2 separate regions of the Homo sapiens genome follow, and region 2 is linked to region 1. Evidence: fine-mapped expression QTL. A gene starts in region 1. The other region holds a variant in brackets. All regions are shown on one strand. Distances are from middle to middle. Region 1 holds the start of HMGB1 (high mobility group box 1). Region 2 has its middle 13 kb from the start of UBE2L5.

What was found. PIP is the estimated chance that this variant, and not a neighbour inherited with it, causes the effect.
Region 2: its variant is fine-mapped to the expression of HMGB1 in left ventricle (GTEx, PIP 0.97).

Annotation. Positions count from the first base shown.
Region 1 is chr13:30,462,706-30,471,041 of GRCh38, forward strand. It overlaps HMGB1 (high mobility group box 1), which reads right to left and starts at 3,231. Exons shown (of 5, transcript NM_002128.7): 1 at 3,091-3,231; 2 at 826-989; 3 at 502-647; 4 at 1-7. The coding sequence starts at 975. RefSeq lists silencers at 1,655-2,294, 2,894-3,203 and enhancers at 2,639-3,414, 3,415-4,190.
Region 2 is chr13:30,431,686-30,440,021 of GRCh38, forward strand. No RefSeq gene overlaps it. Among named protein-coding and RNA genes, the nearest start is that of UBE2L5, 13 kb to the left of the region's middle. The variant C/T (reference allele first, on the strand shown) is at 4,296.

The DNA of each region.
Region 1 (8,336 bases):
GGCCGAACTAAAAAAAAAATTAATTTTAGGATTTTAAGTTAACAGATCACAAAAACAAATACTATCAAGTGTACACTGCATTGCTATTTAAAGCTGCCTGTGAATTTCTGTGATGCATTGGACAGGGTGCAAATACTATAATATACTAAATATCCTTCACAACCAAAGCTTAATTTACAACTATTTAATTTATACTAGCTAGAACCCTAGATGAACATTCTACAATTACACTATTTCAAAGGGATAGTATTTTTCAAGAAATAAAAAGATCAAAAGGAGATACACTGGGCAAAGGAGACCAAATGTCTAATTCAAATGCTCTGGGAACACTCCCACCCAACAGGAATTTTATACTATTTAAATATAACCAATATGAACAAGTATTAGCTAAGAAACTTTGATTGTACATTTACACTCTAAACTGACAAAGTAGCTTGCTAAATTTCTCTCAGATTCTACTGTAAAACGTGTCTGGGAAGTAAAAACAGGCAAGATACTCACGGAGGCCTCTTGGGTGCATTGGGATCCTTGAACTTCTTTTTTGTCTCCCCTTTGGGAGGGATATAGGTTTTCATTTCTCTTTCATAACGGGCCTTGTCCGCTTTTGCCATATCTTCAAATTTTCCTTTCTCTTTAGCAGACATGGTCTACAAAATAATTATTTGTAAGTTTAAGTTGTAACATTTAAGTAAATTATCCTCAAAACCAATGTCTTTTGCTATGTAATAGCGTCCCACTACGAGAATGCCAACTAGGCTTTTTTTTGCATCCTCAATTGGAAACTGTCTTTTAATTACCTTGTTAGCATGTTTTAAGCCCTCTTACCTTCCACCTCTCTGAGCACTTCTTAGAAAACTCTGAGAAGTTGACTGAAGCATCTGGGTGCTTCTTCTTATGCTCCTCCCGACAAGTTTGCACAAAAAATGCATATGATGACATTTTGCCTCTCGGCTTCTTAGGATCTCCTTTGCCCATGTTTAGTTATTTTTCTAAAAAATAAAATAAATATTTGATGTTAGCAATAAAATTATGACATATAAGACCTTAAAGTACTTAGTAAGGGAATGAAAACCAAAGTACTGGTTATTTAACACAGTAGCGACATCAACCTCCGTAAAATCAGACAAGAATATGGCCGAGAGATTAAATTCCTTGAAGGGGCTATGCCAAGCAAACAAAACAAAACAAAAACAGTCCTTCAGGGCGATCTCAAAAAGTCTAGACACAAAGATATACCCATACAGTATTCCCTATCTATCCGCCCGAGTCTGCTCTGAATGAGTATCTAACTGGTCACTTAAACGATTTTAAAATCTAGAACACCATTTTAAACCAACCAAACCAAAGGTCAGAAAACATGCTGCCAATTCGTGGCTTTGCACTAGATAGGGAATAAACAAGGGCCTAAGCGAGTCGACTCTTCCTAATTATGGGACCTTAAAAAAAAAAAATCACCGTGCACCGAAAGTTTCAAAAAACACCCTCTTTGCATAAAACTTTGCTCCAAAGAGGGAGCAGCAGCCAGCTCCGGTGCTCGGAACCCGGTTGGGGGGTGGCGGTGCCACCGCGAGGCAGCCTCGTTTCCTATCGGTTTGGCCCTGAGATGTATTTCTGTTCTGACTAAACACGTCCGGTCTGAAGTTTCTCCGAGTAAACAAGGATGAGGGACAAAAGCCACTCCTGCTCGTGGCTCGGTGGCCCCCTCCCCCAACTCGGGAAGTATTTTTTGGAGCCGTGAAAGTTGGGGTGACTCCTGCGCGGGGCGAGCCCCCCGCCCCTAGAACTTCGCCGGTGGCCGCGCGGCCGAGGAGAGAGGACGCGGCCCGGCTCCCAGGCCCGAGGCCGCCACGTGCGCCCGGCAGGCCCTGCAGGCCCGCGCCGCCGCCGCCCCCATTTTGTCAGGCTCGGCGCAGGGAGAAGCCCCGCTCGAAATGGGGGCTGGCTCCGCCCGCGGCCGCCGGGGCCGGCGCGCACGGAATGGCCGCTGCGCGTCTTCTCCGCCTGCGCCGCCGCCGCCGCGAGGGCGAGCGCGAGCGAGAATATGGCTCCTTCCCTTTGTGTGTGTGTGTGTGTGTGTGTGTGTATGAGAGAGTGTGTGAGTGCGAGGGTGCGGGCGCGGCGGCGGCGGCGGGCGGGGTGCGAGCCGCGCTCTGGCGCACACACTCGGCCATTACGGCCGGGGGAGGGGCGGGGGGCGCGCGGCCGGGCCCTCCCCTCCGCGCCGCTCCCCTCCCCCCGCCGCGGTGGGGGCCGCCCGAGGGCCCACCCGCCCGCCACTCCCCGTCTCCCTCCGCGCGGGCCGCGCGCCCCGCCGCCCCCGCACGGAGAACGCGGGGCTGTGAAAAGAGAGAGGAAAAAAAAAGTTGCCTCGGAACTGCTGCGCCCAGCTCCCCCGCCCGCCCGCCTTGTTTTCTCTCCAGCCAGCAGCGCCGGGCCCGAGTCAGCCATGTTCCAGCGAGCGCAGCGGCGCCGCTCCCCCCGCCGCCCGGCCGCCGCCGCCGCCGCGACCGGGCCGAGGCCGGCCGGGCCCGCACTGCCGCCCCCAGGCCCCCGCGCCGCCCTCGCCCGCCGCGGCGCCCCGCCCGCCCCGCCGCCCGCCCGGCTGGCCGCGCTCCCCGCCAGCGCCCGGCTCGCTGCGGCGGCGGCCAATGCAGCCCGGGGAAGCGCCGCCGCTGCCCTCCCGCCGCCGCCGCCGAGCCGCGCCGGCCCCGCCGCCCCGGCCGCGCTCCGCGCACGCCGCCCGCCCGAACGCCCGGCCCGAGGGCCCAAAACACGTTCAAAATTTTTTTAATTAAAAAAAAAATTTTTTTTTTTGCGCCAGTCAGCGCGGACGCCGCCGGGGGTGGAAACTCGCGGGGCGCGGGGCTCCCGGCGCCTCAGGCTGCCTGAGGGCCGGGGCACCGGCGCGGGGCAGCGTTCCCGGCGCCCGGGCAGAGGCTCGCTCCGTGCGCAGTTCCCCCCACGGTCCCCCCTCATTTGCCTTTGTGTGGATCCTGACCCGCCGGCTCCCGGCCGCGGGGATCCGGCCGCCGCGCGGGCTGGGGAGCTGCCGGAGGCGCTCTCCCCGCCGCGGCGCTGCCCCAGACTCACCCTCAGCGAGGCACAGAGTCGCCCAGTGCCCGTCCGGCTCTCACTTGCCCCGGTGCTGTCTCTATGGAGCTCAATGTACTGCAATGGCTGTGAGAGCGGGAGCCAGACGCAGCCTCCTCACTCTCTCCGCTCTGTAACATTACTCTCCAGCCAGCGCGGCTCCTATTGGCTACCGCCAACTCACGGGGCTCGCTCATTGGCCCGATACCTCCCATTGTCCTGACCAGAGCCCGTTTGCTATTGGCTGTCTCCGGGGACACGTCATCAAGGATTGAAACAGCGCGCAAATCTGAATGTGTGTGTATGCCGGGCAAAGAGGCTGAGGCGGGAGAGGCAGAGGCAGAGGCAGCAGCTGCTACGGGAAAGCAGAGCTCTATGGTGTATGTGTGCATGTGTCTAACCCAAGCCAGCCCCACACCGGAGCGGCCGCCGGAGCGAAAAGGGCCTGACTTTTCCACAAGTGTCTCCAACTCCTCAGGCAAAAGAGACACCCACAGGTCTCCCCCCCCCTTCTTGCCCCACATTCACGCCCAAAGCCGTTGAGATAAGAGGCCCCAGGCTTTTAATGGCCCTTCAAAAGTGAGGGCGACACTATGGGATCATGTCCCCTGAAAACTGGGGTCTCTGCTGGTGCTGAGGGGCGGAAGCCGCCGAGCCTCGAGCCCCTCAAAGGTCTCTGATTGCGTTACACTTTAGGTCTCTGGAAAGGCAGGGCTTCTATAAGAAAGTGACATGATCCAGCCAGCCGGGTTTAAAATACCCCTTTTCTGGGCTCATAAGCCGTCACGTCAGGCTCGCTGAGCAGCTGAAATCTTGAGTCAGTGAGCAGGCATTCAGTTTCACCCTTTTTCTTGGTTTGATCGAGTTTCACAGCATGTCTAGAACTTTTTATTTAAATACAAAGCACTGTCTTAACTTCCTGGAAATCAAATAATTATTCCATGTAATTAAAGAACAGCCACTTGGTTTGATATGGGGTACTCTAGCAGGAAATGTTTGTGAGGCCCTGGTAGAATTAGCAAATTCATTAGAGACCACATTCTAAACTGTTTGGCTATTTTATTTGACTTGGTGTGGATTACTGTTACAATCAAACGAATCCTTGTGATGCTATCTTTCCCTCCCATCACACCACTTAGTGCATCCATGTAACTGCTCTAGGATTACAGGAGTTGTAGGTATATGGTTACCCGAAGGATTAGATGCAGGCAGAGAGTGCATGTGCCCAAATCCACAGGCTGTGGTTTCTCTAACTCACCAAGCTGGCTGGTATTAATAGACATACTTACGTCTGTAGAGAAAATGTGCTGGCTGTAGTGGCCAGTTCTGAAGACTCTACAGTTATATCAGTCCTTTATGAAACTACTATCTATTCCTTTTAGCCTGAGCAGACCACGCCCCTATTCAGTTATAACAGACTTCCCTTTTTTTTCACTCTCTAATGGTATTTTGTACACTTCTAAATCCAACAACCAATTCCTCCAAATGTAACAGATCAAATTTGGAATAAATCACCTACATCGTGTTAATTTGATTTTTTATATCGCTTATAAGCATCCATAACCTAATTTATTTCCTCAAATGTATTAAACTACTTGAGAGTAAGCTTAGATAATCTTTCCTGTTTTAATGTTGATTTCTTTTTAAAAGAAAATACACTATCGGACTCAGGGATTATAGTCTTGGTGAATGGACAATATATCACACATGCACATGAAAAAGACTATAATATTAAAGAGGATATAAATTGGTATACTGCACATGCAGTGTTTAAAGATAATATATCTAAAGTTAACTTTTATGTTATTATTTTCACACATATTTACTATCCTCTGCTTCCCTCTACTAATCATTCAAATTTTATATTTTTTAAATCTAGATATTTATTTCAATACTGTCTTATCTTCTCAATGTCTCATATTACAAAATATTCATGAGAATGATTAAGATACTTTCAGTGGCATCGATGATATTAAAATTTGACGATTAGTTGAATATGGCACTATCAATATTTTCCAGGAGCAGTGTTGGCTTTGTACTGGCACGGCCATACACTTTACTGGTTGTCTATACCAGCTTGCTCCTGCCAGGGTGCATTTATGGCCACAGGACATCTTGAGAGCAATGGGCCCACACAAGGTTTCTATTTTGACAGGATGATATGGTGAGTAATAGGCACTGGAATTGAATAGACTTGGGTGCAAATCCCAGCTCTGCTACTTACTAGCTGTATGATCTTGGGCATGTTTTTAAACCTCCATGCTTCAATTCTCTCAGCTATAAAATGGAGGGGACCACAGGGTTGTAAAGATTAAACTTTTTTTAATGTTTAAAATTATATAGACCCCTTCAATCCCATAATTTAGAAAACCTCAAGTGCAGTTAACCTTGAGTTTTTCTTCATATTTTAATCTTATATGAAGGCAGTGATTGCAAATCTAGTGAATTTTTTGTTGTTGTTGTTATTGTTGTTGTTTGAGACAGAGTTTTGCTCTTACTGCCCAGGCTGGAGTGCAGCGGTGCAATCTCGGCTCACTGCAACCTACACCTCCTGGTTCAATCGATTCTTCTGCCTCAGCCTCCCGAGTAGCTGGGAATACAGGCATGCGCCACCATGCCCGGCTAATTTTTTATTTTTAGTAGAGACGGGGTTTCACCATGTTGGTCAGGCTGGTCTTGAACTCTTGACCTCAGGTGATCCGCCCACCTTGGCCTCCCAAAGTGCTGGGATTACAGGCATGAGCCACTGCACCCGGCCTTGTTTTGTTTTTTTTAAATCCTAACCTCAAACAATGCTAATCTTCCCCTAGTCTGGTGATGGTACCTTTATTTATTCCCAAGTTTAACAGAGACTATATCAGAGAGAAGAGTTTAAAAACCACCACTTGCAGGCAATTCATTTCTTATATTTGATTTTCTGTGATATAGGCAGGGAAGAACATAAAAAAGACAGAAATTTTAAAATAAAACCAACATCTTCTAGCTCTAACCCCACAATCTTGATGTTCCTTTATGATATTAGACGCTTTTCTTCTTCCACATGAATCCTTAGTCACAAGTTGACATATTTTACTTTACAGTTATTGGGTTTTTGTTGTTGTTGTTTTTGTTTTTATGAGACAGGGTCTTGCTCTGTTGCCCAGGCTGGAGTGGAATGGCACGATCTCAGCTCACTGCAACCTCCACCTCCCGGGTTCAAGCAATTCTCGTGCCTCAGCCTCCCGAGTAGCTGGGACTACAGGCATGCACCACCATGCCTGGGTAATTTTGAATTTTTGATAGAGACGGTTTCACCATGTTGGTCAGGCTGGTCTTGAACTCCTGACCTCAAGTGATCTGCCCGCCTCAGCCTCCCAAAGTGCTAAGATTACAGGCATGAGCCCTGGTACCCGGCCAAGTTATTGGGTGTTTTATCCCAAATTACAAAGTCATCCAGTCGAAGAGGCCTGAACACCCTCTCCCATGCTCAATTTAAACAACTGAATTACAGATCGTCATTAATGTACTTTATGCCCTTCCTCCATCCCCTCTAGGATAGGGGACGTACCTCTTTTCTGTAATCCTGTAATATTGTGTATATTAATTACTGCAATCACAATTGTGGTTCTCCAGTTGTATCTGCTTGTCCCACTGCACTGTACACCTTAAAGGCAAGAACTCTGTATTTTTTGTTTTTTTTTTTCTAAGACAGGTTATGGCTGTATTGCCCAGGCTGGAGTGCAGTGCAGTGGCATGATCACGGCTCACTGCAGCCTTGACTTTCTGGGACTGAAGCCATCCTCCCACCTCAGCTTCCTGGGAAGCCAGGACTACAGGTGAGTGCCACCACGCCCGGCCTATTTATTTATTTATTTGAGACGGAGTCTCCCTCTGTCACCAGGCTGGAGTGCAGTGGCACAATCTTGGATCACTGCAACCTCTGCGTCCTTGGTTTAAGTGATTCCCCTGCCTCAGCCTCCCGAACAGCTGTGACTACAGGCGCGTGCCACCACGCCCAGCTTATTTTTGTATTTTTAGTGGAGACGGGGTTTCACCATGTTGGCCAGGATGGTCTCCATCTCTTGACCTTGTGATCCGCCCGCCTTGGCCTCCCAAAGTGCTGGGATTACAGGCATGAGCCACTGTGCCCAGCCCCAGCTAATTTATTTTTATTTTTATTTTTTGTAGAGACAAGGTCTCTCCATGTTGCCCAGGCTGGTCTCAAACTCATGGGCTCAAGTGATCCTCCTACCTTGGCCTCCCAAAGTGCTGGGATGACAGGCATGAACCACCGTGCCTGGTGCTGGCTATTTTTTTTTTTGTAGAGGCAGGGTCTCTCCATGTTGCTCAGGCTGGTCTCAAACTCCTTGGCCTCCCAAAATGTTGGGATTACAGGCATGAGAAACTGAGCCCAGCCCCTATCTTTGAATCCCAAGCACCTAGCAGAGTACTTGGCATACAGCAGGCATTAAATAAAGCCCGTTGCATAAATGAATTAATAGCTGAAGGAGTACGTATTGCAAATTATTGTTTTAACCTTCCTCTTCTATCTTTAGATCTAAAAGCATTTAGGTCTTTCTAAATCAAAAGGCAGGAAAATAGAATAAGAAGCGAATGTTAGGATACTAAGATTGAGGATAGGTGCCAATTACATCTCATTGACGTAACTTAAAAAGGGAGAGGCACAGTTGGAGGGTGAGAGGGGATCTCAAATGTAGAGAAACACATATAGTCTAAGCATTTACCAGTTTCCAATTAGGCCAAGATTATTCCTTGGTGGATACAGTGAACTATGGCAAGCCAAATTAGACTTTATCACAGAAAACTGCAAGATTGTCTGCCCAAAGATTGTTACCAATTGGCTTTTTATTGTTTTATTTTATTTTTTTTTTGAGACGGAGTCTCACTCAGTCGTCCAGGTTGGAGGGCGGTGGCGCGATCTTGGCTCACTGCAACCTCTGCCTCCTGGGTTCAAGTGATTCTCCTGCCTCAGCCTCCCAAGTAGCTAGGATCACAGGCGTGTGCCACCATGCCCAACTAATTTTTGTATTTTTAGTAGAGACGGGGTTTCACCATGTTGGCCAGGCTGGTCTTGAACCCCTGACCTTAGGTGATCCACCCGCCTCAGCCTTCCAAAGTGCTGGGATTACAGGTGTGAGCCACCATGCCCAGACTTATTTATTTATTTATTTATTTATATTTAATTAATTAATTAATTTTTTGAGACAGAGGCTTGCTCTATTGCCCAGGTTGGAGTGCAGTGGTGT
Region 2 (8,336 bases), 31 kb before region 1:
TTCAAAACCAAAAGTGGAACAACACCATGGAAGGTTTTAAGAAGGGAAGCAGAGTGTCCTTTTTAGACCAATGAGGTGAGTCATGTTCTTTTCTGATGTCTCTGGGAAAGATGTGATCAACATAAAGATGTTTTATTGCCAATGCCTAGGTAAAGCAATCTCAGTATTCATGTCTCAGAAACATGTCTTCAGATGCAGTTTCACCTCTCTGAAAATGAGCTCTCCTATGGGAAGGTTTGGTTACTAGTATAATTACAGGCTTCTGAGGGTGCCCTGGCTGTGTCTTTTGTCCATTCCCAACTGTTGCTCCTTCTTTAAAATATACATATGTCATGCCTCTGCCTGAACTCTTGACAGTACTGACTAGAATGCCTTTTCCTACTAGTGGACCACATGCATAAAATAGTTTCACAACACATGGTTGTTGGAAGGGCCATCTCTGATGCAGCATATATACCAGCACTTAATGTTAGCATCTCTCACCACTTAGTGAACAAATTTAGTCATAAGTCAGGCTGGGATTCTAATTTTTTTTATTATTTATTTATTTATTTTACAGGCAGGGTCTCTGTTGCCCAGGCTGGAGTGCAGTGCAGTGGCATGATCATAGCTCACTGTAACCTTGAGCTCCTGGGTTCAAATGATCCTTCTGCCTCAGCCTCCAGAGTAGCTGGGACTACAGGCATGTGCCACCATGCTGGCTAATTTCTTTTAAACATTTTTTGTAGAGACAGGGTCTCACTATATTGTCCAGGCTGGTCTCGAACTTCGGCCTCAAGTGATCATCCCGCCTCAGCCTCCCAAAGCACTAGGATTACAGATGTGAGCCACCGTGCCTACCCCAGGCTGGGATTTTAAAGACAGGCAGGCAAGGGCCTTTGTTAGAAGGAAATTGTCCAAAATTTCAGCAAGCAAACATGTGTTTTTTCTTGATGAGGACACCATACAACACACATCTCCACTAGTGCAAGACACTTGGAAATGGGCTTTACCAGCGATATGTCCAGAAGAGGTGAGGCGCTAAGACAGCTAGTTTACTGGCCTCAGTATTTCTCTTGCTCACTAGCAAGAGAAATAGGTCAACATTTCAGAATCACATAGAATTCTGAGGAATCCATGAGGTACAGAGACTCATGCCCACGTCACCCTCTAAAGTTCAAAGGATATGCCTTTACACATGGGAAGATGCTATGCAGTGACTATTAGAAAAGGTTAGAAAAATTTAAAAGGGTTTTTTGTTTTCTGTTTTTTTGTTTGGTTGATTTTTCGGACTCACCAAAGTAGCCACTAGACCATCAAGTTTGAGAGACACAACTTCATAAAACACAAATGTCTGTAATCCCAGCACGTTGAGAAGCCAAGGTGGATGGATCACTTAAGCATAGGAGTTTAAGACCAGCCTGGGCAACATAGTGAGACCCTCATCTCTACAAAAAATACAAAAAAAAGTTTGCCAACTATGGTGGCACATGCCTGTGATCCCAGCTGCTTGAGAGGCTGAAGTGAGAAGATCACTTGAGCCTGGGAGGTTGAGACTGCAGCAAACTATGATTATGCCACTATATCCCAGCCTGGATGACAGAGCAAGACCTTATCTCAAAAAAGAAAAAAAAAGAAGAAAAAAGAAAACACAAATGCCTGTTTCTGTATTAAGATACTCTTCTATTACCATGAAAAGCTTGGAGGGGCCAGGTGCGGTGGCTCATGCCTGTAATCCCAGCACTTTGGAAGTCTGAGGCGGGTGGATCACGAGGTCAGTAGTTCAAGACCAGCCTGGCCAAGATGGTGAAACCCCGTCTCTACTAAAAATACAATAATTAGCTGGACTCGGTGGTAGGCACCTGTAGTCCCAGCTACTCAGGAGGCTGAGGCAGGAGAATTACTTGAACTGGGGAGGCAGAGGTTGCAGTGAACCGAGATCGCGCCACTGCACTCCAGCCTGGGCGACAGAGCAAGACTCTGTCTCAAAAAAAAAAAAAAAAAAAAAAAAAAACAAAAAAGAAAAGCTTGGAGAACCAGAAATTTAATTTGTTTACTCTTTCATTAAGTTGTCCAACAAACTTTATTGAACACGTCCAATGACCAAAAGCTGCACTTGGGTCTGGAGATACAACTGTAAAGGGGACCTACACCCTGCCTTTGAGGAGCCTCCAACCCTTACCCCATTTTAGGCTGTGCATATGTAGTTTCAGGCTAATTTGCACAACTGGACCACCTATTTAGAACATGAGAATCAGAGACAAGTGGTTTCTTGAACTCATCAATAACCAATTATCACTAAAAAGTCTATGTTTAGATATGAGAAAGTATTCCGTGACCTATTTCATAAACCTCATTTAAAAATATACTTGGTGGCCAGGTGCAGTGGCTTACACCTGTAATCCCAGCACTTTGGGAGGCTGAGGTGGGAGGACCACTTGAGGCCAGGAGTTCAAGACCAGCCTGGACAAGATAGCAAAACCCCATCTCTAAAAAAACTAAAAAAAAAGTTAGTGAGGCATAGTGGTGCATGCCTATAGTCCCAGCTACTCAGGAGGCTAAGGCAGGAGCATCACTGGAGCCCAGGAATTTGAGGCTGCATTGAACTATGATGGCACCACTGCACTCCAGCCTAGGCAAAAGAGAAAGACCTTGTCTCTGGAAAAAAACAAAACCAAAAACCACCACCACCACCACCAACACCACCACCACCACCACCACCAACAAAAAACTCAGAAAACAAAAGTAAAACAATGGACTTTTTAATCCTAAAGTGAGGTAATATACCTGAACACCCATATATTTTTGGATATCCACAACAGCAAAGCAGAAAAGGTGAGGTGAAGGAGAGATGCTTGTGGGGGCCCCTTCTTTTCCATCATTTTAGAATCAACTTGTTTTCTCTGTATTTGAGAAGTATTTGAGGCCATCACCCCCAAGAGGCCAATCCAACTGTAATGGAGTCACACAGACTCACATGATCAGATAGACTTGGCTTGGTTGTGTTTTTTGGGTTTTTTTTGGTTGTTGTTGTTGTTTGTTTGTTTGTTTTTCAAGACTGAGTCTCGCTCTGTCACCCAGGCTGGAGTGCACTGGCACGATCTTGGCTCACTGCAACCTCCTCCTCCCAAGTTCAAGTGATTCTCTTGCCTCAGCCTCCTGAGTAGCTGGGATTACAGGCGTGAGCCACCATGCCGGCTAATTTTTCTATTTTTAGTAGAGATGGGGTTTCGCCATGTTGGCCAGGCTGGTCTCAATCTCCTGACCTCAAGTGATCCACCTGCCTCGGCCTCCCAAAGTGCCGAGATTACAGACGTGAGTCACCGTACCTGGCCAGACTTAGTTTTTATAGAAGGGTAAAAAGCCTTACAGATAATGTGGCTGGCCAGAGCCTGGATATGGAGGCAAAAGTCCAGATTTGGAATGACCCATCTGACATGTCCCCTTACTTGTTCGGGCCCCAGGTTACTCACTTGTGAAATGAAGGCATTATGCTGGATGATGTCTGAAGTCCCTTCGCACATTCCACTATTACGTGGTAACAGTGGCATTCTTAGCATGTTTTGTGACTTTAATTCATTGATTAGATATTTCATCAATGACCAAAGTTGCTTCAATGCTAAGATTAGAACAATTTTGGTGAGGCTTCAAAGTTAATAATTAATGCAAATAAATGAGCCATTTCACACCTCTGCTAGTATGCTCTCCTTTCCAACTCTCTGTACAGAAGAACAAATAATAGCAAACAGCAATGAATTAATTCACAAGCAAAGATTACTTCTGGCAATTAGGAAAGACAGACTCTTTTCTGTTTATATATACCTATTCTGTACATAAATATGTGTTCACATTTATAAATATATATATGTACCATTTTTCATTAAATACAAATATTCCCAAATAATATGATGATGCTAACACCTATAATATTTGTTGAGCACATACTGTGTGCCAAGCACTGTTGAGGACTTCATAGACATTATCAATGATTTCTTATTTTCATTTATTTCTTCTATTTCCAGTCTTAATGCCACAAATGATTTCTCAAAATATGGAGATTTGCAAAGTTTATTGTAAACATTTTATCTAGCAGGCACAACTGTTAACAGAGTGTAAGGAAATGACAATTCTTAAAAAATACTCTCAATTTATCTGAACTTTTGATCTGAACTCTCAATTTATCTGAACTTTCTGGAAAGGTATTCATTTGAGCATGTTTATCTGGGGACAGGGATTTTGTCTCCACCAAAGCTTTCCTCTTTTGGACAGAGAGAAAAAATCTTGGAGATTATGGAGGACGGGAGACATTGCCATCC[C/T]TAGAGAGATCAGAAAATTTAAAAAATCTCAGTCTGCCTCAAGGAAAATTTCCTGGCAATGAGGTTTATATTTGATAAGTTGTGATATTTGAACCACATGCTCTGGAAACAGTTATAAAATAAATTTTCACATAACTGAGACAATTTAGGTGTGGTTCTTTCAATCTGGACCGTATCAGAATTCATACTGGAACTGAAATATCTCAGAACCACTAATTTCCATCTCCTTTGTTAATGCAGAACTCCCAGAGCAGTGATGAAACACTTAATCGCATAAGGGATGTGTTTCATATTATGATGATTATAAGGCTACATGTTTTCCCAAAATGTACAAATACAATGTGGCATGTTTTCTTTACTCATATGCCTGCATATGGAAAACAGAAATAAAAATTGTTTACTTTGGTAACAACAAATGCCATTCTCTTGCTTAGTAGCTTTTGATATCCTTCAGCCAAACATGCAGCCTCTCAAAATACCAGAATCTGGCCGGGCACGGTGGCTCACGCCTGTAGTACCAGCACTTTGGGAAGCCAAGGTGGGCCAATCACCTGAGGTCAGGAGTTCCAGACCAGCCTGGCCAACATGCTGAAACCCCGTCTCTTCTAAAAAAATACAAAAATTAGCCAGGCATGGTGGTGGGCACCTGTAATCCCAGCTGCTTGGGAGGCTGAGGCCGGAGAATGGCTTGAACCTGGGAAGCAGAGGTTGCAGTGAGTGGAGATTGCACCACTGCACTCCAGCCTGGGTAAGTGAATGAGACTTCATCTCAAAAAAAAAAAAAGATACCAGAATCTGTATTAAATACAATGAGTTTCTCACTCCCAGCCTCCTTTTCCTCTTTCTTTCCTTTTTTAATGACTCCATTGTTAAATAAGAAATGGATAATGTCAGCTTTCCCAATGGCACTAGTAGTATTTGTTGCTGTTTCATAAGTAATTTAGGAAAGCAACTGAAGCATAAAGGAGCTAATTATTTATTACTGTCTTCTCCTCTACTGGGTATCACTACAATCTTTAATATTAATGTCTTTCTTACAAGTGTAGGGTTGGAAAATTGAAGTCAGTGAGTTTCATTGATAAATTAAGCAGCTATGAAATGTTATCAGGTGACTAGCTGATCCTGATTTTATCATCAAACTAAAACAGTGCTTTGCTTAATGCATGCATTATCTAAATATTTAATCTAAGTGTGTGTTGATGTATTCTTAATTGTCATAGCACCTTCTTTAAGTGAATCTCTTTTAGGGTCATAAGCAGTTTGAGCTGGTTCTCATAAGTCAAGTGCAAGCTTACCAATCAACAGTTCGACAACCAGTGTGGTACGGACAAAACAGACTGAGCCGCGACAGAACAGCAGCCTGAGTGATGATAGCTGTGCTCAGAAGCCAGCCTAGCCAGAGCTGGCAATTCAGGCAATTCACAGGATAAATCAAAAGCCACAGTCTGGGAGCCTAGAATCAGCAGAGAGGTGTCTGATGTGGATATTGTCGGAAAGCGTGTGCATTGTACAGCCAGCGTATGTCAGAAGAAACATGGTTCTAGTACGTTGCTTTTCAAACTCTACAGGGTGTAGGCAGAGATCATTAAGCAAACAGATGTCAGAAAGGACAGAAAGCTCCTTACCTGGTTCAGCTACCACCTCTCTGTAAAGAAGAGTGCATAAAACCCACACAGATAACCCACCTCTACCCACCCATAGAACATCCTCACTCTAGGAGCATGAAAATACCTAGAGGTTTTCAAGTCTCTCGACGGCCGTGTGAAAATTAGCCTAAAATCACATGTGCACAGGCTAAAGATGCAAACCATTTTCTCAAATGAGCACCACATCTTTTCAATTGTTCTGGAATTGGTGACACTACCATCATCCTCTTGATTCCTGTGGAATCTTCTTGGACCCTGACCTTAATGTCCATTTTGCCTGCCCCATGGTGACCCAGCCCCAGTGAGTGTTTTACCTCCAATGGCCGGGAAACCACAGAACACGCTGCCTAAAGCACCATTTATTTTTTATTGTTTGAGACAGGGTGTCACTGTGTTGCCCAGGCTGGAGTGCAGTGGCACGATCTCAGTTCACTGCAGCCTTCACCTCAGGCTCAAAGGATTCTCCCACCTAAGCCTCCTGAGTAGCTGGGACTATAGGCACACCACCACGCCTGGCTAATGTTTTTTTTTTTTATGTTTTGTAGAGATGAGGTTTTGGCATGTTGCTCAGGATGGTCTTGAACTTGTGGGCTCAAGCGATCAATCTGCCTTGGCCTCCCAAAGTTCTGGGACTACAGACATGAGCCACAGCACCTGGCTTTTTTTTTTTTTTTTTTTTTTTTTTTTGAGACAGGGTCTTGCTCTGTTGCCCAGGCTAGAGTACAGTGGTATGAACTCAGCTCACTACAGCCTTGAGCTCCTGGTCTCAGGCAATCTTCCCACCTCTGCCTCCCGACTACAGGTGTGAGCCACCACACCTGGCTAACTTATCACAGATATGAGCCACTGCACCTGGCCAAGCACCATTTTTGTCACTGTCAGTTTCCTGCTTGAGAAATTACAGTGGCTTCTGCATTACTTTAATAATTGTGTCCTCCTTATGACCCTTTGTAGTCTCCAAAGGCTGGGCTCCTCTTCTGTTGCTGAGCTAATCTATTTATTCTCCCCGCCTGCGCTTGGCTCATTCCTGGGCCCAAGCCTTACCACTTGCTACTCTTCCTCTAAATTTGGATTTCTTCCCCTCTCTTGTCCTCAAACCCACTGTCACTTTTGAATTTGAAGACATGTTGCTTTGCACGCCGCTCCTCTTTGGGGTACATCTGTGAGCACCTGCATGGCTAAGAGGGAGTGCTCAGTGAGAACCCAGTGAATGATGAAGGTGTATGTGAATGACGATTGGATGGGAGAGGCTGCCCAAGTGGAAAAGCGGTATTTGCTTTTCAGTACAGGAAAATTTCCGTGATATTTTTCTGGCACACAATAAAGAAAATGCTATATTGAAGCAAATTAATATATTTTAACTTTGTGTAGATGCAGTGGGAATTACTTTTTAAATGGTGTATGGAAATAAAAGAACTGGTTGAAAAGAACAATTTTTCAAATGAATGTGTCTAATGTCTCCCAACAGATAAGGAAGGGAATAGAAATTTGTGAAGAGGATCACACACCATCACTTTTACACACTCACTATGTGATTTCGCAGTAGAATTAGAAAAGTCAAATTTCATAGTCCAAATGTAGAAAATAGTAGGAATTAGGGCTGGGTGTGGTGGCTCACACCTGTAATACCAGCAATTTGGAAGGCCAAGGTGGGCGGATTGCTTGAGTCTGGGAGTTAGAGACCAGGCTGGGCAACATGGTGAAACCCTGTCTCTACAAAAAATATATAAAGTAGCTAGGTGTGGTGGCTGGCACCTGTAGTCCCAGCTACTTGGGAGGCTGAGACAGGAGAATCGCTTGAGCCTGGGAGGTCAAGCCTGCAGTGGGTGGTAATGGTGCCACTGCACTCCAGCTTGGGTGATAAAGTGAGACCCTGTCTCAAAAAAAAAAGAAAAGAAAATAGTAGGAATGGCTAATTGATGAATAGGTTAGTTCAAAAGAGAGCTCCTAACTGCCCACTGGCCGTACCCCAATTAAAGTAACTTCCAGAAATAATTCTTCTTCAAAAATACATTATCTATGCAAAGGATTCTTTATTAATAACATACATCAGGGTTTGGCAAACTATCTGTGGGCCAAATCCAGCCCGCCTCCAGTTTGGGTAACTGTAAGTTGCTTAGAGTACAGCCAGGCTCGCTCTTTTTGGATTGCCGATGGCTGCTTCCAACTACTATGGTGGAGCTGAGCAGTTGTGATAGAGACCCTACAACTCACAACACTGAAGACCTAAGTTGCAGACTGAAAATGAACCTTACAGGAAAGGTTTGCTGACCCTTGACCTACATGATCTAAGGATATAGTGCGTAATTTGTCTGGAAGTGCCATTAACTTGCTTTCTCCAGTGGGAATGTAGCATGGTTGGGTACATTAATCCTGAAATAAGTGAGAGATCCAG